Regions from separate parts of the Homo sapiens genome. Here region 1 is linked to region 2. Evidence: fine-mapped expression QTL. Tissue or cell type: breast. Region 2 holds a variant in brackets; the other region holds the start of a gene. All regions are shown on one strand. Distances are between the middles of the regions.

What was found. PIP is the estimated chance that this variant, and not a neighbour inherited with it, causes the effect.
Region 1: it holds the start of CCDC81, and the variant in region 2 is fine-mapped to the expression of CCDC81 in breast (GTEx, PIP above 0.99). The same link has a PIP of 0.9 or more in atrial appendage, cerebellum, gastroesophageal junction, sun-exposed skin and transverse colon.

What each region holds. Positions count from the first base shown.
Region 1 is chr11:86,367,693-86,383,820 of GRCh38, reverse strand. It overlaps CCDC81 (coiled-coil domain containing 81), which reads right to left and starts at 8,934. Exons shown (of 15, transcript NM_001156474.2): 1 at 8,579-8,934. The coding sequence starts at 8,657. All of the region lies in intron 2 of LOC105369421 (a long non-coding RNA gene), which reads left to right. RefSeq lists a silencer at 8,900-9,194.
Region 2 is chr11:86,336,545-86,352,672 of GRCh38, reverse strand. HIKESHI (heat shock protein nuclear import factor hikeshi) reads right to left here. Exons shown (of 5, transcript NM_016401.4): 3 at 15,143-15,294; 4 at 7,952-8,070; 5 at 6,730-7,089. The coding sequence ends at 7,035. LOC105369421 (a long non-coding RNA gene) reads left to right here. Exons shown (of 5, transcript XR_007062826.1): 5 at 15,740-16,128. Among named protein-coding and RNA genes, the nearest start is that of CCDC81, 30 kb to the left of the region's middle. The variant A/G (reference allele first, on the strand shown) is at 7,814.

The DNA.
Region 1 (16,128 bases), 31 kb before region 2:
GAGGCTTTAGGCCCCTGCAATCCAATCGGAATAGATTTGGAAAGCTTACAGACTGTAATTTCTAAATTTGACGTTTTCTGACATCCCAAAGAGTCAGAGAGGATATCATTAAATCTCAAAATGAAAAATATCAAGTCTAAAAAGCAAATTGAAGGATATACTACTTTCATATTTTAAGGGAAGCCAGGGTTCTTACTTATTTCAATCAAACACTGAAATGCCAAGAATCACTCTTATAAAGAACTAATCCCTAGACATATACTCTATATTCAGTTCAACCTTCATTTGGCTTCAAATTCTTAACATTCCATGCGCTCAAAACCATATGTTTAAACACCGTGCCAAGTAACAGGATACTGTATCTTACATATGATCATTATTTAAAAATCCTACATGCCTGTTCTGTAAATTATACAATACTATATGCTTGAAAAAGTCATTAATGTCAAAAAACAGATATGTTTCCTGATGTTATAAAACTTATCTTCTAAAATTAAAATACTGATATATGGAATAGTATAGCAGAATAGTAAAGGATGATTTGAACAAAGAAACATATTCCCAGAGCATAATGCAATGGAAAGAGCAGTGTGCTACGTGGAAGACCCACAGCCTTCCTGCTTCCATGGACTCAACTTTTACCCAGTTCACATCTGTAAAATGATGACAGGGCCTTCTAAGAACTATAATTACATAATATTAAACTTTGCTAAAACATACAGAAGCAGCAGGAATATACAATGATGAATATATACACTGATGAAAGTTAATTTATGTGTTTTGCTCAGTTTGAAGTTTATCTTCATCCTTGTTGCAATAGATAATTTGTGAAAGGTAATAAATAGTAGTTTGACTTTCACTTCAGCTCTTGCTGAAGTCACCAATGGTCTCTTTGTCAATACATTCAATAAACGTATTTAATTCTGAGCCCTCAGCCATGTCTGACACTATTGATCACTCCCTCCCCGTTTAAGCACCTCTCCTTTTGGCTTTTATACTACTACTCTCATTTGGGTTTTCTCCTAACTGTCTGGCCATTTCTTCAGTCTCCCTTGCAGGCTTATCCTCCTCCACCCAACCATTAAATGGTAGGGTTTTTCAAGGTACAGTCCTAGGTTGCTTCTCTTTTCACTCTATACTCTCCACTTCAGCAGTCACACCCACACTCAGGATGATTCCCAAATGTTTATTTACAGACCCAGACTCCTTGCCACCCCCTCTTTGAGATTCTGGACCCGTTTATCCAACTGCCTGCTTATATATCACAAAAAGGCCCTTCAACTTGCCCAAAACCGCAATCTTTCTTCTCTTAAATCTTGTCTTTTATCCAGGATTTCGGTCTCAGTGAATGGCACCACTATCTATTCAGTTATATGAGCCAGGAACTCAGAAGTCATCCTTGAGACTTCTCTTATCCCTCACCCCTAACATCCAGTCCATCACCATAATCTGTAGATTTTACCTCCAAGTTGCCCCTCATTCATTGCATTCCTCTGCATTTCTACTATTACCAGTTTTAGACCAAGCTACCATTTGTTCTCACCAAGACTATTGCTATAGGTATTCTTGACCCTCCTATTCATTCCCCACATGGCAACCAGAGTAATCTTTTCCAAATATAAACTGATCATATAATTCAACTTCTCCTTGACCTCCAGCTCAAAACACTTAATGGCTTCCCATCAGGCTTAACATAAAGGTCAACATCCTTAATATGACTTACAAGGCCCTGTATTACTTGACCCCTTCCTTTCTCTCTAGCCTACTTTAGAATACACTGCCTCCCCACATCTACAGAGCAGCCAGTCAACTGTCTTTCAGTTGCTCCATCACATCATACTCTCACCATAAGTTTTTGCCCCTGTCATTCCCTTTGCCAAAATCATTTTCAACTCACTTCCACTCTCTACCTCTCTGATCCATTTCATCTACTTAATTCCAACTCATTCTTCACAACTCAGCTCAAATTATCCCTTCTTTAGCCATTCTTGGCACACACCCCCATCCTTACTCTCTATTAAATGTTCTCATTTGACTTCCATTTCTTGGTGCTGTATGTAAGGAAGTCACCACTCCATCCTAACAACTAAAAAGTTGACCAGACAGAAAAATCAACAACTCTTCTTGGGTCCATAAGATGAGGGAGGACACAGGACAAACTGCTGCCCCTAAAATTGGAGAGACAGAAAGGCAAATACCAGGAGGAATGGCTTCCTGAAACGGACTCACATGCAGAAACAGCATCAAGAACCAATGCTGGGTAAGAAAACTCAAAGTGTAATTGACAAATTTCTGGAGGCTCAGTGTGGACAACACCAAGAGTTAAAACCTCCAGGGGAACCCAGTCATGGAGGGAGGGTCCCCACATATTTTAAGGTTTACTTCCCAGAGCTCAACCAGATTCCCACAGCCAAATATCCAGGTAAATATAAGAGAAAAATCTCCTTGTGCTTCAGGTGGGAGGAAGAAAAAAATACCATTTTTAAATATGCCAGAGTACTCTGTTGTCCTTAATGACCTGCCCTCAGAAGAAACTAGTTCACCAGAGCCTAACCTGCTGGGATATTATCAGAGCCTAACTGACCTGAGAGAAGGAAAATGACCAACTCCAGTCCACTTTAGCCATTCTGTCCCACCTAAGGAGAAAGGAAAAATCTGAGAAACATTTGTAAAGTTCACAGTCCAGAGGCACAGGCTCACTAAAAGACTGAGACCTGATCATAGGACTATAGAATGCTTTCCCACCCCCCACACTCTACCCCTACATTACTAAAGGCCTATTTATAGCAGTTACTTTTACCCAGTACATCACTTCCAGCTATCAAGAAAAAATTACAAGGCATACTAAAAGGCAAAACATACAATATGAAGAGACAGAGCAACCATCAGAGCCAGACATGGCAGGGATGTTGGAACTATCACACTGGCAATTTAAAACAACTATGGCTAATATGCTAAGGGCTCTAACGGATATAGTAGACAGCATGCAAGAACAGATGGGCTACATAAGCAGAGAGATTGAAATCCTAAGAAAGAACCAAAAATAAATGCTAGCAACTAAAAACACTGTAACAGAAATGAAGAATGCCTTTGATAGGCTTACTAGTGGACTGGACATGACTTAGTAAAAAATCTCTGAGCTTGAAGATGTGACAAGGAAACTTCAAAAGGAAAGCGAACAAAGACTGGAAAAAAAAAACCCAGAATATCCAAGGATTGTGAGGCAACTACAGAAGGTGTGTACCCATAATGGGAATACCAGGAGAAGAGGGAGAAATATTAGAGGAAATGCTTGAAACAATTACTCAGAATTTCCCTCTAATGTCAGACATGAAACCACAGATCCAGGAAGCTCAAATAACACCAAGCTGGATAAATACCCAAAAAAAGATACCTAGGAATATCATTTTCAAAGTACAGAAAATCAGAGCTAAAAACAAATCCTGAAAGAAGCCAGGCAGAGAGAGGGAAAGGAACACCTCATCTATAGAGAAACAAAGATGAGAATTATATTGAACTACTTCTCAGAAACCAAGCAAAAAGAGAGTACCATAAGACATTTCAAGTGTTGAGAAAAAGAAAACACCAACCTAAAATTCTGCATCCTGTAAAATTATTTTTCAAAAGCAAAGGAGAAATTATTTTTCAGACAAACAAAAATTAAGGGAATTAATTGCCAGTAAACCTGCTTTTCAAGAAATGTTAAAAGATGTTCCTCAGAAAAAAGGAAAATGATGTAGGTCAGAAACTTGGATCTGCATTTAAAAAAAAAAAAAAAGGGAAGACCATCGAAGAAGGAATAAGTGAAGGTAAAATAAAAACTTTTTTTTTCTTTGAGACAGGGTCTCATTTTGTTGCCCAGCCTGGAGTGCAACGGTGCAGTCTTGGCTCACTGCAACCTCCACCTGCTAGGCTCTCAAGCAGCCCTCCCACTTCAGCCTCCTGAGTAGCTGGGACTACAGTCGTGTGCCACCATGTCCATCTAATTTTTTTGGTTTTAATTTTTTGTACAGACAAGGTCTCACTATATTGCCCATGCTGATCCTGGACTCCTGGACTCCAGCGATTCTCCCACCTTGGCATCCTAAAGTGCTGGGATTACAAGCATGAGCCACTGCACCTGGCCTATTTTTATTATTCTTAGCTGACCTAACAGATAGCAGTTTGTCTAGTAATAGCAATAATGTATTCAATTATGTATGCTTATGCATATATCATATATATTTACATTTATATATAAGTGAAATGAAATGAATGACAGCAATGATACAAGGGATGGGAGGAAGGAATTAAGATTTTGTTATTATAAAACAATCACACTACCTGTGAAGTGGTACAGTGTTATTTGGAAGTGGACTTGAATTGACTGTAAATATATATTGTAATCTAAGGCAACTACTAAAATTTTTTTTAAAAGTATAACTGGGCCTGGCACGGTGGCTCACACCTGTAATCCCAGCACTTTGGGAGGCTGGGGTAGGCGGATCACAAGGTCAGGAGATCAAGACCATCCTGGCTAACATGGTGAAACCCCACCTCTACTAAAAATACAAAAAATTAGCCAGGCATGGTGGCGGGTGCCTGTGGTCCTAGCTACTGGGGAGGCTGAGGCAGGAGAATGGCATGAACCCAGGAGGCGGAGCTTGCAGTGAGCCAAGATCACACCACTGCACTCCAGCCTGGGTGACACAGCAAGACTATGTCTCAAAAAAAAAAAAGTATAACTGATATGCTGAAAAAGGAGAAAATGGAATCGTAAAATGCTCAGTGGAAAATAAAGATGGGTACAAAAAACAAGGGCAAAAAGTAGAAAACAATAACAAATATGGTAGGTATTAATCTAGCTATATCAGTAATCACTTTGAACATAGGCTAAGTGTACCAATTAAAAGACAAAGATTGCTGGAGTGGACCAAAAAACAAAACCCCACTATATCTTGTCTAAAAGAAACCCAATCTAAATCTAAAAACATATAGATTAAAAGTAGATGGATGGAGGAAAATACAGCATGATAATACTTATCAAAAGAAAGTAGGGGTAGCTATATTAATTTTAGAACAGACTTCAAATCAAGGAGAGTTGTCAGAAATAAAGAGCATTACATAATAATAGAGGGGTCAATCTTTCAAGAAGACCTAAGAATTTTTAATATGTATGCACCTAAAAATAGTATGTCAAATTACATTAAGCAAAAACTAGTAGAACTGCAAGAAGAGATAAATGAATCCATTATCATACTTGAAGACTTCAGTACTCACCTATCAGAAATGAACAGATCCAGCTGGCAGAAAATTAGTAAAGGCATAGTTGAACTCAACAGCACCATCAATCAAATGGATATAGTTGATATCTACAGACTAGTTCATCCAACAGCAGTAGAATGCACATTCTTCTCAAGCTCACATGGAACATTCACCAAGACAGACCATGTTCTGGGCCATAAAACACACCTTAACAAATAGAAAAGGATAGAAATCATACAATGCCTGCTGTCAGATTACAATGGGATTAAAGTAGAAATGAATAAGAGAAAGATAAGTGGAAAATCCCAAAATACATGGGGACTAAATAATATGCATCTAGATAACACATGGGACAAGTCAGAGGACTGTCACTACCCAACTTCAAGATTTACAATAAAGCTGAGTCATCAAGACAGTGTGTATTGACAAAAGAACAGACAAATAGATTAAAAGGACACAAAAGAGAGCCCAGGAATAGACCCATATAAATACAGTCAACTTATCTTTGACAAAGAGGCAAAGGCAATACAATGGAGCAGATAGTCTTTTAAACAAACATTGCTAGAACAACTGGACATCCACATGCAAAAAAAAAAAAAAAAAAAAAAGAACCTAGGCACAGACCTTACACCTTTCACAAAAATTAACTTAAAATGGATCATAGACCTAAATATGAAGTGCAAAACCACAGAACTCCTAGAAGATAACATAGGACAAAACTTAGATGATCTTGGGTATAGCAATGACTTTTTAGATAAAACACCAAAGGCATAATCCAAGCAAGAAATAATAAGATGGACTTCATTAAAATTTAAAACTTCTGCTCTGTGAAAAACAATGTCAAGAGAATGAGAAGACAAGCCACAGACTGGGAAAAAATATTTGCAAAAGACACTGTCATGCAAAATATACAAATAACTCTTAAAAACACAAAGAAAAGAAAAACTCAATTTAAAAATGAGCCAAAGCCCTTTATATATATCTCATCAAAAAATGACAAGCATATTAAAAGGTGCTCCCCATTATTTATCATCAGGAAAATGCAAAATAAAACAATGAGATACCAATACACCATCTATTAGAATGACCAAAATCTAAAATACTGACAACAACAAATGCTGACAATAACATGGAGTGACAAGAATTCTCATTCATCGCTCTTGGGAATGCAACATAGTACAGCCCCTTTGGAAGACAGTCTGGCAGTTTCTCACAAAACTAAACATCCTCTTACCATACAATCTAGCGATTATGTCCCTGGGTATTTACCCAAGTGAATTGAAAACTTATATCCAGTTTTTTAAAACCTGCACACAGATATTTAAAACAGCTTTATTCATAATTGCCAAAACTTGGAAGCAACCAAGACATTTTTCAGTGGGTGGACAGATTAAAAAAAAAAAACCTGTGGTACATCTAGATAATGGAATATTATTCAGAACTAAAAAGAAATGAGCTATCAAGCCACAAAAAGACATGGAGGAATATTAAATGCATATTGCTAAGTGAAAGAAGCCAATCTGAAAAGGCTTAAACTATATGATTCCAACTATATTACATTCTGGAACTGGCAAAACTATGAAGACCGTGGAAAGATCAGTGGTTTCCAGATTTTGGGATTAGGGGTAGGGGTGAATAGGCAGAACAAAGGGGAGTGAAATACTCTATATGACTATAATGATAGATACATGTCATTTTACATTTGTCCAAACTCATAAAATGTACAACACCAAGAAAGAACTCTAATGTAAACTATGAAACTTGGGTGATTTTGATGTGTCAATGTAGGTTCAATTGTAACACATGTACCACTCCGGTGAGGGATGTTGACAATGGGAGAGTCTATCCAAGTGTAGGATTAGACAGTATGTGGGACATCTCTGTCTGATATGGTTAGGCTTTGTTTCCCCACCCAAATCTCATCTTGAATTGTAATCCCTAGGTGTTGAGGGAGAGGCCTGGTGGGAGGGGATTGGATCCTGGGAGCAGTTTCCCCCATGCTGTTCTCATGATGGTGAGGGATTTCTCACAAGATCTGAGAGTTTTATAAATGGCAGTTTCCCCTGGTCCCCCGGGCTTCTCTCTCTCTCTCTCTCCTGCCGTCATGTAAGACATGCCTGCTTCCCCTTCTGCCATGATTTTAAGTTTCCTGAGGGCTCCCCCAGCCATGAAGAACTGTGAGTCAATTAAACCTCTTTCCTTTATAATGACCCAGTCTGGGATAGTATCTTCATAGCAGTGTACAAATAAACTAATATATTGTCCCTCCTTCTTAATTTACTGTGAATCTACAACTACCCTAAAAAATCATCTTTAAAAAAAGTTCTTACTGTACCATTTACCTCCTCCCTGGTATCATTTACCTAAATTGTAAATTTGCATTGATTTGTGTGATTATTTGATTAATGTGCATCTTCCCCACTAAACAGTAAATTCCAAGATGTTTGTTCACCGTAAGTTAACTAGTGCTCAGCATATAGCAGGGTTTCAGAATTCCTTGAATGACTATACATAAATTTACAAATATAGCAAATGTTTTTAAATTCATTAAGCCATTATCTTCAATGCATCTTTCAGGATGATTTGAGAGGAAAAGATAGGAGTGATGCAGGGGAAGAGAAAGAAGCAGCCATTCCTATTTGTTTTCTGCGGTCATTTGGTTAAAGCCTAAGCAACATCTCTAAGTTACAATGGTTTGATAATAATGAGTTTGCATTCCTGCAGCACCTCTCTTCTCCTGTGGTTTGCAGACAGATCTCAGCCTCACTTTGGGGTGACTCTTCTACAAACGATGCTAAAAACAGATCTTGTCTTGCTACTAACCAAGCCTAATGAGTTTTCTCTGAGAAGGTGCCAGGTCCCCTTCCAAAGTACTTACCCTGTAGCTTTTTATGATCATCTCATTTTCTTAATACAACGGCATGATGTCAAAGGCAACAAAATCAACCGTCTTTGCATGAACTCTCAAAAGGAGCCATTTAGGGTCCCTGCATCTCTTTTCTCTAGGTAGGCAAAAGGGTTGTGATCCATCCCAGCGAGTGGTGTGGGAGTGGCTGTTTTTACCTAACCTTTATTGAGCACTTACTTTGTGCTAGTCCGTTTATTGAGCACTTACTTTGTGCTGTCTACGCATCCCCTGGTTTAATCAAAACCAGAAAAGGGTCTCTGGGCGTCCAACGTGGGCAGGATGTGATTACCAGCTGGTTGTCAAGGCAACTTAGCCACGGCAGGCCAGGCCTGAGCCAGGGAATTGGGAAGTGGGTCCCCCCGCCTCCCCTGCAAGCAGATGAAGATTCAATCCCCAGGGCCACCCCCTGCTACCCAACACGCTTACCCTCCTGGCTCAGCGAGGGCAGAGTGGGCAGCACCTGCCTGCCCAGGTCCTGCAGGGCACGGGCGATCGTATCCAACATCTCCAATTTCCAGGTGACTCCGTACTGAATGTTCGATGGGTCTCTTCTTTCTTATATGGAATGTGCACAAAAATAATTTTCCCACCCTCCAGCCCCTTCTCCACGGAGCTTTGGATGTGCCTTAAAAATAAGAGTGACGAAAATCTTGAACTTCTTGACTCTTTTTCTTCTTTCTTAAATAAACTTAAACATTGGTTCTCGCCGTCCCTCCCCACTGCTCTGGCTCTCGGGCAGCTCCCACAGCAAGAGCCGCAGGAACTGATGTCCGGCACCGAGTGAGAGTGTGCAGACCCGCGCCCTCCTGACCAACGAGAGACCCAATGAGGGGTGAGCTGCAGCCTCGAGGAAGGGAGGGGCACCAGGGAGAATAGGCCCGGCAGAGGGAAGGGCGCGTTGCTGGGACGCGAGAAAGGCTCGCTCGGTTGCTAAGGCGTCAAGGCTGGGATTCGACCTCACCCCCTTAGATGGGCGGCTTCCAGGTTGCCCAGGCGATTCAGAAGCTCGAGGCAGCGAGGTTGGAAGTAACTTAAAAATAAATAAATAATGGGTTTTTACTTCTCTGACCCCGGGCAGCGAAGAAACGTGGTTAGAGTGGTAGTTTTTGTACCTTGGACAAATCTAGGAATGCCTTTTGCCCAGAGAGATCGATATTTGAGTCTCCAGATCTGTTTGAGAGTTTGAGTTTGAGCTGGAATTTGTTTCTTGGTTTGCTTTTCCCTGGGCTCTCTTCCTAGGAAATGGAGAGCTGGAGAAGTGGGGAGGAGGGAATTGACTTTTTTTAAACTACAGTCATTTCCCCCTTTTCTCTACATGTCACCAATCTCATCCTGAAGAATTGCGTGCATGCTCTCCCCTCTGCTGGTAATTATCACAAGCTGAACATACCTATGCAAAACCCATCCAGGTCAAAAAATAGAATGCTAGCACATTGCACAGATCAGCACTTCATTACCCCTCCAGTCATTAGCCAACACATACTGCAGATTCATTTTGCCTGTTGAATCTTTGGAATCATATAGTATGTATCCTTTTCTGTCTGGCTCTATTCAAATTCACATTATGTTTATGAGGTTCATCCATAGTTTCTATGGTAATAATTTCTTCATTTACACTGTTGCATATTATTCCTTTTTATGAGTATGGCACAATTTATGCATTCCACTGTTGAAGGGCATTTGCGTTGTTTCCCTTTGAGGCTACTGGGAATAAGGCTGCTGCAAACAGTCTCACAGAACACTTTTGACAGATAGATGTACTCATTTCTGATGTGTATATAACTAGGAGTAGATTCATGGGTCATGAGAAATGCATATGATCAATTTTAATAGATAATGCCAGCTAATTTTTAGTGGCAATATCAGCATTATTGTTCCACATTAAGATAATGGAATTATAAAAATAATTGTTTTACAATACATTAGATTTTGAATTAAATATAGTGGTACTTTTAATCTCTAGAAAAGCTGTCTTCAGTTCCAGAAGATGGTGGTGGATGCTAATTATTAGTGAATTGTAGATGGCTAAAGGAAGCTGTAAAAAGAATAAGGACAAAGACTTTTCTTCCAAGGTTTTACTTTCCTTTTGTCAAAGGTCTCTTGACAAAAGAGGCTGTGTAGATACATGTAACCCTGTGTTGACTAGAAACTTTTAATGAGCTATAAATATTATATATCCTGAAAATACATACTTTTCAGTTGCTATTAAAACTCAGGCAAACTATGTACTTCCACTGCTACAAATTTGGATATATTTGGATATAAAATTGGATGTATTAGCATGATACATACAAAGATATATGTATATGCAACATTGTTTATAATGTTAATTCTTAGAATTAGCCTAAGATGACCATCATAGGGAACTGGTTAAATTGTGAATACATACATTGGAATACATTTCAAGAGTTTACTTAAAAGGAAACTGCACATTTACGTGCTGATGTTGAAAAAGTTTCAAAATATAGTAAGTGAAAACCAGTAGCAGCATAGTATTTTTATATAATGTAATCCTGTTTCCTTCAAATATAAGTATATAAGTATGCATACGTATTCATATATATTTTTGTAAACATATGGGATATTTGAGGAAAGATACATACACAAAAATATTAACAGTGGAATTTTGGATCAGGCAAAATTTTGTATGGTGGAGGAGGCATTCCAAGAACTTTTATATTCACTTTTCTCCTTTATTTACTGTTTAACAAGGGCATGAATTACTTTATAATATTTAAGATAATTTACCAAAGAGAGGAAGAGAGAGAGGTACAGGTAGAGTGTAGGGATTTATGCAAACACTGAAGGAAACAAACAGGGCCAAAATGTTCCCAAGTATTTCAATGTACATTTACTTTTCTGCAAGCTCCAACTTGCCTTGCAAAACCCACATTGAATGGGCAGTCATTTTTACCCAAGCCCCAAGGCACACACAATATTAAGTGGCTTATATTAAAGGCAACTTGGAAAAAAAAACTATTGAAAAAGAAAACATAATACTCATTATACAACACCAGAATAGAAATTTGCAATAAATAATTTAACCACATCTATTGAGTACCTAATTTGTGCCAAGCACTTTGCTAGTTGCTAAAAGGAATACAGACACTTAACCAGAAAACCCCTACAGATAAGAAGTTCACAATTCATTTTTCACCATTTTAACAAATATTTATTGCAGGAGGTTCTAAAATCAGGATTGGGTTTCAAAGTTAAAGTGTAAATTGAAAATTGGATGTGGGAAAACTACTCCAGGAATCCCTTCTTAGGAAGGGACCATATCAGAGACCCACATATGCCATCTCTCAGTTTATAGACCCAATGCAGTCTTTCTCTCCTCACACTGGAGCAGATCACTTTCTTCAGGAGAGATGTAATGAAACAGTTGGCTAGAGTTTAGGAAAGCAGTCTTATTCTAAAAATTCAACCAAATAGAATTGTATGTACTCAACACTGTGCCATGCTTACACTATGATACACACTCATGAACTGAGACAGATTGAAAATATAGCAGATGTATATCTTCTGTCCCTTGCTTACTCAAGGATTTATGCAGAAACAGACTTGCGGTAGCTTCATAGACTGTGAACTTAGCCAAGATAGAACTACATTTTCCAGAATTCCCTTTCCTATATGATTCTAGGTTAGGGTTAGTCAAAAGAGAATGTGTGTGAGATTTGGAAGGCAGAAGTAAAGCAGCAGCCATGTGATCTGAAGCCCTAAAGGTCATTGTAGGGCCAGGCACTGACCTGCTGGCTCACCGTGTAGGCATGGGCCAGCAGCCTGGCCTGCAGCTTTGCAGCTCCTGCCAGATCTCCTCATTCTGCTTCTCTCAATCTTAGACCAGGTACATGTGCAGCAGTGTTGCCAAAGGTACTACCTAATCCTATAAGTCCCTCACATCACTGAGGTTGGACGCAAGGAAATACAGATGCAGGTTGCAATTTGTCCTCACAGGATCTAGTTTGCCTGTGTGTAACCGCCCAATGGGTTCATCTTGCCTACTGCCCAAATGAAGCTGATTTATCAAGATGGGGGAATTGCAATAGAGAAAGAGTTTAATACAGGCAGAGCTGGCTAAATGGAAGACTGGAGTCTTATTATTACTCAGATCAGCCTCCTTGAAAATTCAGAGGCTAGGGTTTTTTAGTTTGGTGGAAAAGGAGCTAGGGAATGGGGAATGCCGATTGGTTGGGTCAAGTGATGAAATCATAGGAAGTTGAAGCTGTCGTTTTGTGCTGAGTCAGTTCCTGGTGGAGGCCACAAGACCAGATGAGCCAGTTTTTCTGTCTGGAATGTGCCAGCTAACCCATCAGAATGCTGGGTCAGAAAAATCGGCTCAAACACCAATCTTAGGTTTTACAATAGTAATGTTATCTATAGAGGCAATTGGGGAAGTTAGCAATCTTGTGGCCTCTGGCTGCATGACTCCTAGGCCATGGTTTCTGAGCTTGTGGCTAATTTGTTGGTTTTACAAAGAACAATCTTGTCCCCATGCAAGAAGGGAGTTTGTTTCAGGGAGGGGCTGTTATCATCTTTGTTTCAAAGTTAAACTATAAATTCCTCCCAAAGTTAGTTCAGCCTATGCCCGGGAACGAACAAGGGCAGCTTGGAGGTTAGAAGCAAGATGGAGTTGGTTAGGACAGATTTCTTTTACTGCCATAATTTTCCTATGTCAGATTTTTCTCAGTGTCATAATTTTTGCAAAGGCGGTTTCACTTGTAGGTTCCAGATTGTTCTCACCAGTTCCAATCTTTCCTTATTCTTCCCCATTTCATGACCATCTTTTCTTCCTATTAGCCTTGCTGTCTTTAGGCCCTACACCAGACACAGAGGCCAACACCAGACAGAGATGACTTAACCAGCTCTTACAACTATGTAAGGGCTAGTGCTCATAATAAATTTTATATTTTCTATCACTCTTACAGGTTCTGCTTCTCTGATTGAACCTGAATGATACAGAACTGGTAGATAAAACTAAAGTATTTCAATTTAAAGTATTCTCTTTAAGTTTTACTTAGACTTGAATTCACATAAATTATGTATTTGTGCACTGCAACTGTATTGTAAAGATTTATCTTAGTCTGTTTTGTGTTGTTGTAAAGGACTACCGGAGAGACTGAGTAATTTATAAAGAAAACATATTTATTTGGTTCACAGTTAAGAATGGCTGGAAGGTTCAAGATTGGGTATCTGCATCTGGTGGAGGCCTCAGGCTGCTTCCATTCATGGCAAAAGGCCAAGGCAAAGGGGAGCCAGCTGTGCAGAGATCACTTGGTGACAGAGGAAACAAAAGACGGGTAAGGGAGATGCCAGGCTCTTTTTAACAGCCAGCTCTGAGGAATTAATAGAGTGAGCACTCACTCCCTACCGAGGGAGGTCATATATCTCTATTCATGGGTTTCGCCCCCATGACCAAAACACCTCCCATTAAGCCTCATCTCCAATATTGGGCCAGGATCAAATTTCAGCATGAGGTTTGGAGGGGACATCAAACCGTAGCATATGTTAAATGTCATGTTTGAGGCATGAAGACAGTGTAATGGGAATTCAAGGGGAGGAAGATTATATCTCTGTTAGGCCATTCTTGCATGGCTATAAAGAAATACCTGAGACTGGGTAATTTATTTTAAAAAGAGGTTTAATTGGCTCATGTTTCTGCAGGCTGTACAAGCATGGTGCTGGCATCTGCCCAGCTTCTGGGGACGCCTCAGGGAGCTTTTACTCATAGTGGAAGGCAAAGCAAGAGTAGGCTTATCACATGGCGAAAGCAGGAGCAAGAGAGAGAGTGGGTGGGGGAAGGTGCCACACACTTAAACAACCAGATTTCGCAAGAACTCATTCACTACCGTGAGGATGGCACCAAGCTATGACGGATCCACCCCCATGATCCAAACGCTCTCTGCCAGGCCCCACCTTCAACACGGGGATTACAATTCAATGTGAGATTTGGCAGGGACAGATATTCAAACTATGTCTGCTTCTAACTGGGATGATTGGCCTGAATGCTAAACAAAGAAGCTTGAATTGTATTTGGAAGGTGTGGATAGTTCCTGAAGGCCTTGAATAAGAGAATGACCTAATCACCACTATATTCTTCTGTATTACATTAAAAAGAAGTTTGAATTTCATTACATGTTATAAGTAATCCATATGTCAGATAACAACTAATCAGAGAAATTTCTCAGAGAGATAGGGGAAAGCTACCAAATAACTAAAAGGATAACCACAGGAAGGCTGGCTACAGAATGATTAATGTGGTTGAGTGACAGCCATTTAGAAGCTTTTGACAGATGAAACTGCAAAGATGCATTCATTTTCTTACAATACAAATGAAAAAAAGTAAATTAGCTAAGGTGATAAATGAGATTACCTTGACATTAAGCTGTGGAATGATCTCCCAAAGAAAAAATATAGAAAACTCATCAATTCAGACTATTTGAAAATAGACCATTTCAAGTAGGAGTTAACACACTATTGTTATTCTACCTGGACTCTTTGCAGAATAAAAGTCATACAATAGGGCTTTCTTATGTTTAATAGATGTTGTCTCAATAAATAATAAATATGATAATAATACCCGTGTATATAACATTATCTATTTATGATTAGAAGAGAAAGTTAATATTTAAGCTGTACTCATCTGACCTACACCTCTTATAAGCATTTTGCACCTTTTTTCTATTTCACTTAAGCTAAAGTGAGGAATTTGGCATTTGGAAATCTGAGCTCAAGTCTAGTATTAACATAAATAGGCTTGTGTTTATAACTGAATAAAATCTTAATATTTCTGAGCCTGTTTGTTGTTAAAATAGTAATAATGACTGTAAATGTTAACAGAGTATATCCCAGTAAACTTAAAGAAATAATGATAAAAGTAAAAATAGGAAAAAAAGCTCTTTGGCTTCCAAAAATTCTAAACCTGCAGATTCTTGCCCCATTTTACCATAAGATTATACCACTTTACATAGGCAAAACCAAATGTATATTCTATAAACAAAAGAATACCTTGACTATTTTTTAAAATGGAGACTACTGATAAATAAATTTTGAAAAATTGTAAAATAAGTGACTTTAGGCAATGTATGGTAAGTTGGTCAGCCAATTCACTTCACACAATATACAAAAATTAACTTAAAATAGTTCATAGACCTAAATCTAAAAGTAAAAGACATAAAAGTTCTAGAATAAAACATAAAAGAAAAATCTTGTGATCTTGAGGTTAAGCAAATATTTAAGATAAAAAGCATTAATCATAAAAGTTAAAAACTTGATAAGTTGGACTTTATCAAAATTCAAAACTTTTGCTCTTTAAAGGCATCATTAAGAAATGAAAAGTCACAGAATAGTAGAAAATATTCACACTACCAATACCTGACAACTGGTATATAAAATGTATTTTTAAAATCTCCCAAAGCTCAATAATAAGAAGATAATTCAATTTCTTTAATGGACAAAATATTTGAACATACATTTTACAAAAGCAGATGTATAAATGGTCAGTAAGGAGATGGAAAGGTTTGCAACATGGTTAGTCATTAGGAAAACACATATTAAAACTACAATGAGACAACACTACATTAGGATGGCTACAATTAAAAAGACTGATAATACCAAATGTTAGTGAAGATGTGGAACAATTGGAGCTTATACTCTCAAGGTGTGAATGTAAAGTAGTTCAAAAAACTGGCAGTTTCTTATAAAGTTAAACATACACCTACCATATGACCAGCCATCCTAGTTCTAAGCATTCAACCTATAGAAATAAAAAATATGTGTTCACACAAAGTGTTAAATGCAAATATTCATAGCAGCCTTATTCACAGTAGCCAAAAATGTAAAACAGCCCATGTGTCCATCAAATGGAAAATGGATAAACAAGTCGTAGTATATCTATACAAAGTAACACTACTTAGTAATAAAAAGGAGTGAACTACTGACATAGGTAATAACATGGATGAACCTCAGAATCATCA
Region 2 (16,128 bases):
CTAAATGGAAAAGGAGAAATAGCAGGTCATGAAACTGTTTTAATGAATGTTTAAGTCAGAAAATGTATATAAATGACTTTTATTCCATATTTAAACTTAAATTTTTATATAGGTTTTAAGTGTTATCTCTTTTCCACAAATTATTTATTACAAAAAGCTCAAGTTGTGTTTAACAAAATGGACTTATAACAAATGTCTTTTAAAAGATTCTAAATTTGTTAATTCTTAAGCTACAACCATAAGGACTTCCTGTGTCAGCTTCATTTGTGATTTCCAGATCCTTAGTTAACTTTAAGGATATGAATATTCTTTTGTAAGTAACCTTGGAAAACTGGACAATTTTATGACATATGTGCTTTAATAACTGGTGTAGCTGTTAGCTACCAGGTTAAAAAGGATGTATAGATGGCTTTATGTTGATGTGAATACTTGTTTTGAAGATATTTTTTAAATGTGGATAGGTAATGGGATGTGTATGCAAGGTAATGAATTTTATTTATCTAAGTAAAAAAGAATTATTTTACCTTAAGGAGAGTCTGGTTATGCTAGCCTAGAAGAGTATTTTTTTATTATTATACTTTAAGTTTTAGGGTACATGTGCACAACGTGCAGGTTTGTTACATATGTATACCTGTGCCATGTTGGTGTGCTGCACCTAGTAACTCATCATTTAGCATTAGGTATATATCCTAATGCTATCCCTCCCCACTCCCCCAACCCCACAACAGGCCCCAGTGTGTGATGTTCCCCTTCCTGTGTCCATGTGTTCTCATTTTTCAATTCCCACCTATGAGTGAGAATATGCGGTGTTTGGTTTTTTGTCCTTGTGATAGTTTGCTGAGAATGCTGGTTTCCAGCTTCATCCACGTCCCTACAAAGGACATGAACTCATCATTTTTTATGGCTGCATAGTATTCCATGGTGTATATGTGCCACATTTTCTTAATCCAGTCTATCATTGTTGGACATATGGGTTGGTTCCAAGTCTTTGCTATTGTGAATAGTGCTGCAATAAACATACGTGTGCATGTGTCTTTATAGCAGCATGATTTATAATCCTTACAATGAACTCAAACAAATTTACAAGAAAAAAACAAACAACCCCATCAAAAAGTGGGTGAAGGATATGAACAGACACTTCTCAAAAGAAGACATTTACGCAGCCAAAAAACACATGAAAAAATGCTCATCATCACTGGCCATCAGAGAAATGCAAATCAAAACCACAATGAGATACCATCTCACACCAGTTAGAATGGAGATCATTTAAAAGTCAGGAAACAACAGGTGCTGGAGAGGATGTGGAGAAATAGGAACACTTTTACACTGTTGGTGGGACTGTAAACTAGTTCAACCATTGTGGAAGTCAGTGTGGCGATTCCTCAGGGATCTAGAACTAGAAATACCATTTGAAGAGTATTTTTTAAACTTAAGAGTATTCAGGCCGGGCGCGGTGGCTCACATCTGTAACCCTAGCACTTTGGGAGGCCGAGGTGGGTGGATCGCTTGAGGTCAGGAGTTCGAGACCAGCCTGGCCAACATGGTGAAACCCCATCTCTACCAAAAATACAAAAATTAGCCAGGCATGGTGGCAGACACCTGTAATCCTAGCTACTCAGGAGGCTGAGGCCGGAGAATCACTTGAACTCAGGAGGGCTGAGATCACACCACTGCACTCCAGCCTGGGAGACAGAGTGAGATTTCATCTCAGAAAAAAAGTATTCAGAGAGTGTAGAAGTTCTGAGGAGTAAACTGTATTTGACAAGTTAGGGGTTGGAAAGGATCAATAAATGTGTCAAAATTTTTGACGAAGCTGGTTAAATGTGATGGATGTATTCACAGGAAGAAAGGCTTATGAAGCCATTACTACATATTGTTAAATAGAAGACAAGTAACAAGAGTAAAACTATAATCTGGATTTTCTTTCTGATAAAACAGCAAAGCTATCTCTGGTGAGATAACAAAGATTTCTTCTATCACTGTAACATTCTATCACTAAGCATTTTGACATATTAAGTCATTTTTTAAAAAAGCTAAAATACTAATTTGGAAAAACTAAAATACCTAATAATCCTAGTCACATATTCTTTTATCTTTTATGTTTGTGCACCAAAATTAACTTGATATGGTTCAAATGTAGACTAACGGTTCAACAAATGATGTTGGGAAAACTGGATATTCACACGCAAAAGAATGTGCATATTCATTTACCATTCACAAAAATTAACTCAAGATGAATCAAAGACCTAAATGAAAGAGATAAAACTATAAAACTCTTAGAAGAAAACACAGGAGTCAGTCTTCACAACCTTGAATTAGGCAATCGTTTCTTAGATATAACACCAAGAACAGAAACAAGAAAAGAAAAACAAAGATAAACTGAATTACATCAAAATTAAAAACTTTTGTACTGCAAATGATATCAACAAGAAAGTGAAAAGATAACTCACAGAAGAAAATATTTGCAAATCCTATTTTTAAGAGACTTGTATCTATAATAAACTCCTAGCCAGGCACAGTGGCTCATGCCTATAATCCCAGCACTTCAGGGGGCTGAGGTGTGTGGATCCCTTGAGCACAGGAGTTCAAGACCAGCCTGGACAACAGAGTGAGACTAGATCTCTACAAAAAATACCAAAAAAAAAAAAATTAGCTGGGCATGGTGGTGCGCACTTCTAGTCCCAGCTACTCGGGAAGCTGAAGTGAGAGTATCACTTGAGGCTGGGAGGTCGAGGCTGTAGTGAACCGTGATCGCACCACTGCACTCCAGTCTAGGCAACAGAGGGAGATCCTGTCTCAAAAAATTGAAAAGAAAAAAGATAAAAAGAAATGAAGTACAGATACATGCTACAACATGGAATAATCTTGAAAACATTATGCTAAGTGAAGGAAGCTAGTCACAAAAGACCACTCTCTCTGATTCCATTTATATAAAATATCCAGAAAAGGCAAATCCAGACACAAAAAGATTAGTGGTGGCTTAGGGATACTAGAAGCTGGGAGATGGGGATTAACTACTAATGGATATGAGGCTCCTTTTGGAGGAATAAAAATTAGATTGTGATGACATTTGCACAAATCTGAGACTAAACTAAAAAGCATTCATTCATTCAATTGAGACAAGGTCTCTGCTGTTGCCCAGGCTGGTCTTGAATTCCTGGGCTCAAACAATTCTCTCACTTCAGGCTCCAGAGTAGCTGAGATTACAGCTGTGCACCACTGCACCTGGCTCTTTAAATGGGTTAACTGTAAATGGGTTAACTGTGTGGAATATGAATTATATCTCAATAAATCTTTTAAAAATTAAATTCTTTAATTTAAAAAAAATTTTTTTTTTTGAGACTGAGTCTCATTCTGTTACCCAGACTGGAGTGCAGTAGCACCATCTCGGCTCACTGCAGCCTCCACCTCCTGGGTTCAAGTGATTCTCCTGCCTCAGCTTCTGGAGTAGCTGGGATTACAAGCATGCACAACCATGCCCGGCTAATGTTTGTGTTTTTAGTAAAGATGGGCTTTCACCATATTGGCCAGGCTGGTCTTGAACTCCTAGCCTCAAGTGATCCACCCACCTCGGCCTCCCAACGTCCTGGGATTACAGGCGTGAGCCACCATGCCCAGCCACCTTTATATATTTTTGACTAATATTCATATCTTCTCTCCTCTGACAACTCTTTATAATTTTGGCCTTTCCCAAATTCAGGCACAGTAAGACTATGAAGATGTCTTTTATGCCTGAACTCTTCAGGTTTCCTTCACATTATGGAAGAAAAGACAATAGGAAAAATTAGGTTTGTTTGGCACTCTACAAATTTTAATTAATCCCCAATCATTTTAAGACTTTTTTTTTAAAAAAAATCAAACTTAAAAGAAAAAAAGAAAACTTAACAAATCAAGAGATTAGCCTTCTCCTGTTAATTATGCCAGGTAAAATTTGTGAATAAAAATGTTTCAGTGTTTCATTTCAGGTAAAAAGAAACATGCTCATGTTCATGTAAAGACTAACACAATAACTGTCTGCAAAAAGATATACTTTACGAGATTACAGACCAAGAGAATTATCACTGAATATTGTCCATAATATGTTGTACTCTCATAATCATTTTATAAATTGTATTGTTCCTCAATAGTGGATTCCACTCTTCTCTAATCTAGAAAAACATCATTGTCTGCAACATCCTCAACTATCAGCAAACTTAGTCTTCTGGAAGAGACATCAGGGAAAAACTGGCCTCAGTGAAAAATTAGCTCAGCAGATACTGTAACAACTAGCATGGCAGTAAACTCCAAGATGATGATCACTGGGTTTATGTTTCCCAACTAAATGACAAGTACCTTCTCCAGACAGCTAAACAACCACTCCATCAGGAGACCTTAAACCAATGATTCTTAGGAATCCTCCAGAAGCCAACATCTTTGGTGGAAGACTACTAATCAAGACCTTCAAATCAAACAAATGACAATACAAAGTAGACAGCATGGCAACAAGGAAGGCTACAAGGCAACAAGGAAGATTAATTTTCTGATACCTTTGCTACTTTCCCTCTTCTGCTTATTACAGTTTGGTACTCCCTAGAGATTGCCTAAAGGTTTCTCAGTATTCTCTCACATTTATCATTTTATACTTAATTCTTTATGGTGTTTTTTGGCCACCTTAAGAATTTTGAGCAGTTTTCTCAAACTATAGCTACTCCCTGAATCTTTCAAATTCCACCATAAAATATATATATATATATATTTCCTTTAAATTCTTGAGGAGGCCAGTTAATTCCCACAGGTCCCTTTTGGTATTTGAATTTTCTTCATATCATTAACCTCACTCTTCATTCTTGTAAAAACTGGATCTCTACCTTAATTAAACAAATATACTTCTGCTACAATCATTACAGCACTGTCAGCAGACAGAATCAAGCTCACCAAGGCAGGGGACAAATGTTGGAGCTATCCTCACTGCACTAGTCAGTTTTCTCCAGATTTTTCAGACTTCTCTGTAGGAACTATTTAACTCCTCTAAGAATATGCCCACCTCAAGGAAACAATTCTTGGCTCACTCCTGTTGTGATAAATATTTATATTTCTACTATCTTCTGTAACCCAGCCGGCATTATTTATGTCAACACCAGGTTTTTACCTGCCTCCTGTACACAAACCTACCTTGCATATATAGAATAATTGTTAGATGTTCAGATATTTAAAGCCCTTTTCTTTCCAGCATATCACGTGTCTCCGAGAATAACCAGAAACTTCCAAAATAAGGCAGGTATAGGCTACTCAGGAAAGCTCCCAGAAGTGATGACTCCTTATGCATACTGTGCAAGATACTATTCTAGAAGTAAGAATAATACTAGAAAATGTGGCCCAAAATTTCACTCCCATCATCTGCTCTGGAAGCCCAAGAAACTAGTTTAAATTCACTACAACCCAAGATTATCATGAATAATCATATATTCTTTTGATTTCTTAGCAGACCAAGGAATAGTTTGTGTTTACTTAGTATTTCCTGTTGTATCACTACAAAAATCACTGGGAAGAGGCTACCTGACTGTAGAAGAGGCACAACTGAACTTCAGGATGTTTTTTCAGCTTGGGTTTGGCAATCTAGGTCCTAGATACAAGTTGTAGTACATGAATAATCATTTTGCTTCTGGAAATTGTATTGCAATTAGCTGATGTTTTCTGTGCAGAGTATTAAAGACTGTTGTGTAGCCATTGCCAAGTCTCATGATTCAACAATTGCTATGGTTTGAATATTTGTCCCTTCCAAAATTACGTTGAAATTTTAATCCCAATGTGGCAGTACTGAGAGGTGCGGCCTTTAAGAGGTGATTGGATCATGAGGGCTCTGCCCATAGGTTAAGTTATCACAGGAGGGGAACTGGTGGCTTTATAAGAAGAGGAAGAGTGACCTCAGCTGGCACAAAAGCATGCTCAGCCCCCTCACTGTGTGATACGCTGCACTGCCTAAGGACTCTTCAGAGTCTCCCCACCAGCAAGAAGCCTCTCACCAGCTGCAGCCCCTTGGCCTTGGAATTCTCAGTCTCCATCATTGTAGGAAAAAAAAAAAAATCCTTTTCTTTATCAATTACCAACCCAGCACTTTGGGAGGCTGAAGTAGGATTGCTTGAGCCCAGGAGTTCAAGCCTAGTCTGGGCAACACAGTAAGACTGTGTCTCTGCAAAAACATCAAAAAAATTAGCTGGGTATGGGGGTGCACGTCTGCAGTCCCAGCTACATGGAAAGCTTGGGGCAGGATGAGCACTTGAGCCCAAGAGGTCATGGCTGGAATAAGCTGTGATCACGCCACTGCACTAAAGCCGGGACAACAAAGCAAAACTTCGTCTTAAAAAAAAAAAAAACATTTAAGTCAATAAATTACCCAGTTTTGGGTATTGTTATAATCAACAAAAAATGAACTACTAACCATCCATTAACAAGAAGAATCCTATATTCTACACATAAATGCCTACCAGTATTAAATAAAAGCTCACCAATATGGCAATTTTATTAAACTTATATGAATCTGCAGATATAAAAAGTGACAGCCAACCTGTATTAATTGGAAAAACTGACAATCTTAAGAAATAATCTCTGAAAATAATTTCTCCATATTTAAAAATGTATACTTCATATGTTTTTCAAGTCTCCCAAATTTTGAAATAGGTAATTGAAAAGTTAACTACTCCAGCAAACCATTGTTTCATTTCAATAAATGAATGATTACACATGCAATGGTACTTGGCACACTACTGTTTGGTATAGGTTTTATTTTTAAGTAAAAAAAATGAATCATAGCCAAAACAAAATGTCTTGCCTTTGAATGGTATTTTAAGCTTAAGGGGAAAAAAGTCTTTAATGATGAACATATTTTCATTTTTCAATGTTTTTAATTTTTAATAAAGATTTTTAATTAAGCTTCAGTCTCTAAGCAGTTTTTAAACTTAGGTTTCGTGATCCTTTGACCTCATACTTTTAGATGGAGTCAGTTATCTTCAAAACATGACAAATTTCAGAATCCATTAAAAATTATTTTATTCAAATTATGTTTTCCAAAAGAGAGGGTTCTGTGCTAGTCGTCTTTGAAAGTTTTCATACCTAGAAAAGAAAACACATATATTTACATTCACAAGAAAATTAAAATAGGATCTTTCATTAACTGCCAAATGACTTATCCAAAACAATTTTACATGTCATTTCTAAAAAGCTATAAAAAATCTAAAAAGATAATCTGGAAATGTAATTATTCTTATAAAAAGACAGCAAGCATAGGAATTTAAATATCGGGGCAGTTTTGATTAGCTTTTATCAGAGAGCACAAATCATAAGAAATTTTAGTAATTGTTTATCTTCTGCAAATTTAAGACCTAGAAGGGACCTAAGGAAAAAAATCAAATTCAACTCCTATTTCCTCATTCCACAGATGAGCAGATGAGAGAAATTTGCTCAGGGTCACATAGCTACATTATGCCAAAATTCAAACCTAGTGCATTCCAATGCTCTCCATGCTACACCATGGTACCACTTCTCAACAAACTCTTCCTAGGCATCCTCCCATCTCTAGGATACTCAAAGTGAAAAGAAATATCTATAAAACACGGGAAAGTTGGAAAATAGATTCATTAGCCATTCATGTACACAGTGCAGTATAAACTACTCTCATAGATGGTACTTCTAAATGAAAATACACAAATATTTATAAGCTTTAATAGTGGTCCCTAAAACATAGGCAACTATATTTTCCTGTCTTTATAAATTCATAATGGCGACAATATAACAAAATATTTAGGGTAAGAACTGTTTCTCATCAGATCTCTATAGT[A/G]CATACTTTAATGGCATGCAGTGCTGATGTTCACAATAAAAGAATATGTTTAAATGTCAAAAAAGGAATATATTCATAGACAAAATAGATATTCAGTTATAAAAAGCCTTAATATTGGAGACAGAAAATGCCTCATACCATTTCAGAACCACATTTGCCGGAATGAACATTTCAGATGGGCTTGGTGTCATCTGGGCCTGAGAGACAGCAAATGATGAAGCAAAATTGTAGAAATTGTCCAACATCTTTTGTGTGAACTGAAAAGTTAATAATAGATTAATGGATTATACTGAATACTTCATTTAGAACTCAATATTTTTAAATTAAAAGTGTTCTCACATTAACTTGTTTATAGGGAGTGTCAGTTCTAAGAGAGTCTAATGCTGAAAGCTGGCTGGGTGCGGTGGCTCATGCCTGTAATCCCAAAACTTTGGGAGGCTGAGGCAGGAGAATCACTTGAGGCCAGGCATTCAAGACCAGCCTGTGCAACATAGTGAGGCCCTGTGTCAAAAAAATAAAATTAAATAAATGAATAAAAAAGAATGTTAAGAGTAATCATACATACAATGACACTGTGAAATATGCTACTCACTTTGGGGAAAAAAAAAGAAAAAAATTTTTCTTCAAAATATTTTCTTTCATCTCCATGTCTGCATCCACTATGTCCCTCCTCAATTATCACTCTCCTCAAATCAACCTATTTTCTCATATAAAATAGTAACCATCTCTAAGAAGTCTTTTACCTGCCAGAAAGATAAGAGTTTACATATTATAAAGGAGCAACTGGTTATTTCCATTGCTGGAAAGAAGATAAAGGCAGCACTATTCCATTTCCTCTGTTTCCTAATCTGTTTCCCTTCCTTGACTCTAAAATGATCAAATTCACTAACATACTCCAAGTCTCCTTGGTAGAAGCTAGAAGTAAATGGACTCACATTTCCTGAGAATCAAATGGGCTTAAGTACTAACCCTAAAAGTAACTGAACTTCTGAAGATAATACTACCTTCTACTCACTCAAAAATAACCTTTCCAGCATCACTTTCTCAAATATACAAAATCAGCCATGCCTTCTCTTCTCTACACAAGAGAATTGGTCTTATTAGGTTTTTTTATTCAGTTGTTGAATAATATGAAGGCAGTATAATCCAAGAGACTCTGCTGCGAAGGCACCTGATTAATATCAAAAGTTCAGTAAAGTCACTAACAGTTTCTTCGTTTGTTTTTGAGACAGGGTCCCACTCTTTCACCCAGGCTGGAATGCAGTGGCACAATCATGGCTCACTGTAGCCTTGATCTCCCAGGCTCAAGTGATCCTCCTGCCTCAGCCTCCCAAGTAGCTGAGATTATAAGCATGCACCACCATGCCTGGGTAATTTTTTATCTTTTTATAAAGACAGGGTCTCACTATGTTACCCAGGCTGGTCTCAAAATTCTAGGCTCAAGCAATCCTCTCACCTCAGCCTCCCAAAGTGCTAGAGTTACAGGCATGTGCCACTGTACCCAGACTAAAGTCACAACTAAAAGATCAATATTAGGAAAAAAAAAAAAAATCAACAGCAGTCCTCCACACCAGTGACAATAATTTTTAAGTGTAACTGAAATCTTTAAAAGGATTCCATTCAGAATATAAACAAAGCATTTTCTCCAATACCTAGAAAAAATGCTAAGACAAACTAGTAAGATTTTTGTGGAAAATATTATAAAGACTACTAAGAGACAGAAAAGAAAACAAAAGGACCTATATATACCATTTTCAATGGAAAGATATACCATGTTCAATGGAAAGACATAACATGTCACATATGGAAAGACAATGTGGTAAAGGTGGCCAATTCTCCCCAAATTAAACCCATATATCCAATGTTATTACCAACAAAATTCCAACAAGGTTCTTCATGAAACTTGACAAGCTAATACTATTTAATGAAACTCAACAAGCTGATATAATTATTATGAAGAATACCTACACAATTATTATGAAGAATACCTATACATATTTTGATGACTGTGAGGAGGAACTTGCCCCACTGGCAAAGAGACAGGCAAATAAACTAATTGGAATAAAAGAGACAGCCCAGAAATAAACCTAAGCATATATGACAAAGATGCTATTACTCATGGTAAAAAAAAAAAAATGGGACAAATTACTCAATTCATGGGGCTAGGACTAGTTTTCCATAAGGGGAAAAATGAATTTAATTCCCTTACCATACTGCACACAAACATATTCAAAAAGTAAACCTTAAGGCTTTAAGAACTGAAAGACAACATCTTAGGCTCTGCTTGAGGCCAGGAGTTTGAGACCAGCCTGGGCAACATAGCGAGACCCCCAGTCTACACACACACACACACACACACACACACACACACACACACACACGAACATCTTTATATCTTTACATATCAGGACAGAGAAGGATTTCTCAAACATTAAAAAACCCACAAATCCACAAATCATAAAAGAAACAATACATTTATCTATATACAAATATAGTATATCTGTATGTAAAAGTCACTATAAGCAATGTTAAAAGACAAGCACCATGCTAGAAGGAGAAAAATGCAATGTATTTACAAAGGATTATTATCCAGAACACATAAAGGCATCTTAGGTTTTTTTCCCAAAAGACTAAATTTAAAAAGTGCCAAAAGCAATACAACAGAAAATTGGACAAAATATATAAAGTCAATTCCTATAAAAGGAAATACAAACACAGCCAAAAGTGTGCAAAGATGCTCAATATCACCAGTAATCAAGAAACACAAACTAAGTATGATATTCTAATTTCACTCATCAGTTTGGCAAAATTTTAAAGGTCTGATAAATGTTAGTGAGAACATATGAAAAAGGAAATGAAAAAAACTGGCTCATTTATACAATGGCACACTATGAAGCAATCAAAACAAAGTATATTCCATGTATCAACATCGATAAATCTTTAAAATAATGTTGAGTGAACAACAGCAAGTTATACAGAATAATACTATTTATATTCATTTTTAAAACACACAAAAGAACAAATCAACAAGAAGGAAAAACAAAGGATTCAACACAGAAGAGAAACAAAAAGAATTTCTGTAGTAATGGTGAAATAATACCTTGTCTATGGCTATACAATAGGTCCAGAGAATAGTCAGTCAACAGTAGAACAAAAAAGAAAGGACAGTCTGGGCAACATAATGAGGCCCCATCTCTACAAAAAATTAAAAAGTTAGGTGGGTTTGGTGATGCTTGCCTGTAGTCCCAGCTACCAGCTACTAGTGGGAGCCCAGGAGTTTGAGGCTGCAGTGAGCTGTGATTGCACCACTGCGTTCCAGCCTAGGCGACAGAGCAAGACCTTGTCTCAAAAAAAAAGAAAAAAAAAAAAAAGGAGAATTCCAAGTGGAATGTTTCCGAGACCAATTTGAAACTGATATGTTTAAATAAACTGAATGAGAATTTACACTTAGTAGAGTTTGAGCATAAATTAGAAGTAGAAACATAGAAATCTATGCAAAGGAAAAAAATGAGGAAAAATGAAAAATTATACAAGAAAAGAAATGTAATCGTTGTACCACACATAGCTCAATTCTGAAAAATATTTACCTTCTCATAATACTGTAAACTTTTAATACTGATTTAACAAAAATGTATACTGATAAGGTGGGGAGAAAAGAAGTATGTACATGTTGGGAAGCAGGGAAGTGAGAGAGTTTCATCATGTCTTATATTAGCAAATAAATAGAAAACATCTATAACAGAAAAACTAACAGATTTTAAGCAAGGTTTTTTCTGATATATGGAAATAACAGACACTAGGAAAAATAGATTAAAAAGGGGAGGGAAGTTGAAAATCATAGCTTCTAAGGAGCAGAATAGAAGTAGAATGTAAGAGTCATAACAGAGGACAGCTGTTTCACATATTACACTATTTGAGGCTGGGCGTGATGGCTCACGCCTGTAATCCCAACACTTTGGGAGGCCAAAGTGGGTGGATCACGAGGTCAGGAGTTCAAGACCAGCCTGACCAACATGGTGAAACCCCATCTTTACTAAAAATACAAAAATTAGCCAGGCCTGGTGGCACGCGCCTGTAATCCCAGCTACTTGGGAGGCTGAGACAGGAGAATTGCTTGAACCTGAGAGGCAGAGGTTGCAGGAGCCGAGATCACGCCATTGCACTCCAGCCTGGGCAACAGAGTGAGACTCCATCTCAAAAAAACTATTTGACTAATATCCAGAATCTACAAAGAACTTAAACAAATTTGCAAGAAAAAAACAACCCCATCAAAAAGAGGGCAAAGGATATGAACAGACACTTCTCAAAAGAAGACATTTATGCAGCCAACAGATACATGAAAAAATGCTCATCATCACTGGTCATCAGAGAAATGCAAATCAAAACCACAGTGAGATACCATTTCACAACAGTTAGAATGGCGATCATTAAAAAGTCAGGAAACAACAGATGCTGGAGAGGATGTGGAGAAATAGGAACGCTTTTACACTGTTGGTTGGCGTATAAACTAGTTCAACCATTGTGGAAGACAGTGTGGCAATTCCTCAAGGATCTAGAACTAAGAAATACCATTTGACCCAGTGATCCCATTACTGGGTATATACCCAAAGGATTACAAATCATGCTGCTATAAAGACACATGCACACATATGTTTACTGCGGCACTATTCACAATAGCAAAAACTTGGAACCAACCCAAATGTCCACCAATGATAGACTGGATTAAGAAAATGTGGCACATATACACCATGGAATACTATGCAGCTATAAAAAAGGGTGAGTTCAAGTCCTTTGCAGGGACATGGATGAAGCTGGAAACCATCATTCTGAGCAAACTATCACAAGGACAGAAAACCAAACACCGCATGTCCTCACTCATAGGTGGGAATTGAACAATGAGAACACCTGGATACAGGGCAGGGAACATCACACACGGCGGGCGGGTCTGTCTTGGGGTGGGGGGCAGGGGGAAGGATAGCATTAGGAGAAATACCTAATGTAAATGACGAGTTAATAGGTGCAGCACACCAACATGGCACATATATACATATGTAACAAACCTGCACGTTTTGCACATGTACCCTAGAACTTAAAGTATAATAAAAAAAAACTATTTGACTATTTAAACCAAATACATGTAATACTCATAAAAATTTGGAGTAACTAAGTAATTAAATTAGAAACATGTTTAAACAGATACAGATAGTACTATACATATTTTGTGGATACACAGGAATTTTTTTAAGTACTAAAATATGAATAGGAAAGATATAAAAAGTTAGAAGGTAAAAGGCAGGAAGAGAAGCAGGCAGCAGTGGGCTATATCTATAATGCCTTAATTTCTTTTTTAAAAATTAGTGGCAAATAAGACAAAATATAACAGTTAAATCCAGGGGGAAGACAATGGAAGTCTTAATGTATACCCCACCATAAAGAGAGCTCTGTAAAGACAGGTGTTATTCTATTTTGTGGACCTATTTGTATCTATGAGTGCTTAGAAATGCCTGGTACAGGCTGGGCGCGGTGGCTCACGCCTGAAATCCCAGCACTTTGGGAGGCCAAGGCAGGCGGATAACGAGGTCAGGAGATCGAGACCATCGTGGCTAACACGGCGAAACCCCATCTCTACGAAAAAATACAAAAAAAATTAGCTGGGCCTGGTGGCGGGCACGTGTAGTCCCAGCTACTTGGGAGGCTGAGGCAGGAGAATGGCGTGAACCCAGGAGGCGGAGCTTGCAGTGAGCCGAGATCGCGCCACTGCACTCCAGCCTGGGCGACAGAGTGAGACTCCGTCTCAAAGAGAAAAGAAAAAGAAAAAAAGACATGCCTGGTACAGAGTAGTTACATAATAACTATTTGTGGAAAATATAAGTTACTCTATTTTCTCTGTATTTAAAATATTTCGTAATACATTTAATTAAAACTATAGTTTTATTTTAAAAACTCAAATAATTTATAAACATGTACAGTAAAAAAGTCTTCTTACCCTTCTCCAGGGATAACATTTTAATGTGTATTTTCCAGACACTTTTAAAATATTGTCTACACAGGATACTACGATTATTTTATAGTTTGTTTTCAGCACAGCAGCTTATTTGTAAAATTATGGGAAAAAAAACATTTTTGAGACCCAGAGTCTGTCATTCTCAATTCAGTCCATTTTCAAAGATGTGACAAATCTACCTTTACATTCATGACCACAACCTTCAAAAGTGCGCCTCTGGTACTGCCAGGCAAACACATATGGTTTCCCTAATCCATTCACTCCTCCTCTGCTAGAAGACTTATTTAGTAGTCTTTTTTTATTTCAATTTCTACTACCTCGATCTTAGCTGATGATCGTCCTTTCTATTTCACTAAGCAAGAAGAAATCAGGAGACAGCCTGCACAAGTTCTCATCACCACATCTACCAGCCTCCTGAATCTGTACCCATATATCCATTATCCTGTCTAAAGTGAACACCTCCATATATGCTGCTATTTTCTACTCAAGGACACTGCTTTAGCAGTTCTCCTTGCTCTCCTACATCATCAATTTTTCCTCTTGATAATAGGCTAAGAAGTCAGGAACAGAAAGACAAATAGCATGATTGATCTCACTTATATGTGGAATCTAAAAGTTGAACTTACAGAAGCAGACAGTAGAATGATGGTTGCCAGGGGTTGAAGAGTGGAGGGGAAGGGAAAATGAGGACATGTTGGTCAAAGGGCACAAAGTTTCAGTTCAATGGAATGAATAAATTCTGAAAATCTATTGTACAGCATGGAGAATACAGTTACTAATAATGTATACTTGTAATTTGCTAAGAGATCAGATCTTAACTGTTCTCTACAAAAAAATGATGACTGTGTGAGGTGACTGATATGTTAAGTAGCTTGATTTTATGTCAAAATATAGGCTGGGTGTGGTGGCTCACACCTGTAATCCCAGCACTTTGGGAGGCCGAGGCAGGAAGATCACCTGAGGTCTGGAGTTCGAGACCAGCCTGGCCAACATGGCAATACCCTGTCTCTACTAAAAAAAAAATACAAAACTTAGCCGGGTGTGGTGACATGTGCCTGTAGTCCCAGCTACTCAGGAGACTGAGGCAGGAGAATCGCTTGAACCCGGGAGGCGGAAATTGCAGTCAGCCGAGATTGCGCCACTGCACTCCAGCCTGGGCAACAGAGCAAGACTCCATCTCTCAAAAACAAAATAAAACAAAACAAAATGTAAACATGTATCAAAAACATCACATTGTATACCCTAAGTTACGATTTTAACTTGTATATTATACCTTAATAAAGCAGTGGAGGGGGAGGTAAAGAATGAAATGTATGTTGCATTACCTGAGTGAATGAGTCAACTGAGGATACAGCAGCATTACCTACAGGAGTCTGCTGAGCCATACTGTCTAATAATTCCACTGAAATTCCAATCTGAGCAACAGATGGAGTTCGGACAATATTCATGGCTCCAAAAGGATGTTGGCTTCCTTCTCCTGCAAGAAATTAACATATGACACACATTTCAAATTAAACTTGTAGTCACACAATTTCCTTTGTAAATTTATAAAGAACCTCTAATTTATATACATGAAAAAGTTTTATGTCCAAGTTTGTCCCTCTTTTCAGATAAATGCAAAAGCCTACTTCGTTTTTAGCATATTAACAAAGAATAAAAGAACTAAAAGTTTCCCACCAGAAAAATAGCTGTCACATTTCTGAAATGTATTGAAACTACTGCAACTAGACACAGACAGTAACAGAGTGTGGGAAAAATAAATAATTAATAGAGAAGACTCCCTTTAGCATTCCTTATGGAGCAGGTCTGCCAGCAATGACTTAGTTTTTGTTTATCTAGGAAAGTATTTCTCCTTCATCTCTAAAGACAGTTTTGCTGAGTATATAATTCCTGGTTGATGGCTTTTTTTTTTTTCCTTTCAGAACTCTGAATATGCCAATCCACTACCGTCTAGAAGACTATGGGGTCTCTGATGAGAAATCAGCTATTAATCTTAGCAAGGATCCTTGCATGTGATGAGTTACTTCTCTTGATGCTTTCAACATTCTCTCTTTACCTTTTGACAGTTTGATTATCGTGTGTCTTGGTGTAGTTTATCCTACTTGGAGTTTCTTGAGCTTCTTAAATGTGGTTAATGTTTTTCCTCAAATTTGAGAAGTTTCTGAGCATTATTTATTTAAATATTGTTTTAGTCTGTTCAGGCTGCTATAACAAAACACCATAAACTGGGTAGCTTATAAACATCGGAAATTTATTTCTCACAGTTCTGGAGGTTGGGAAGTCCAAGATCAAGGAACCGGCAGATTTGGTA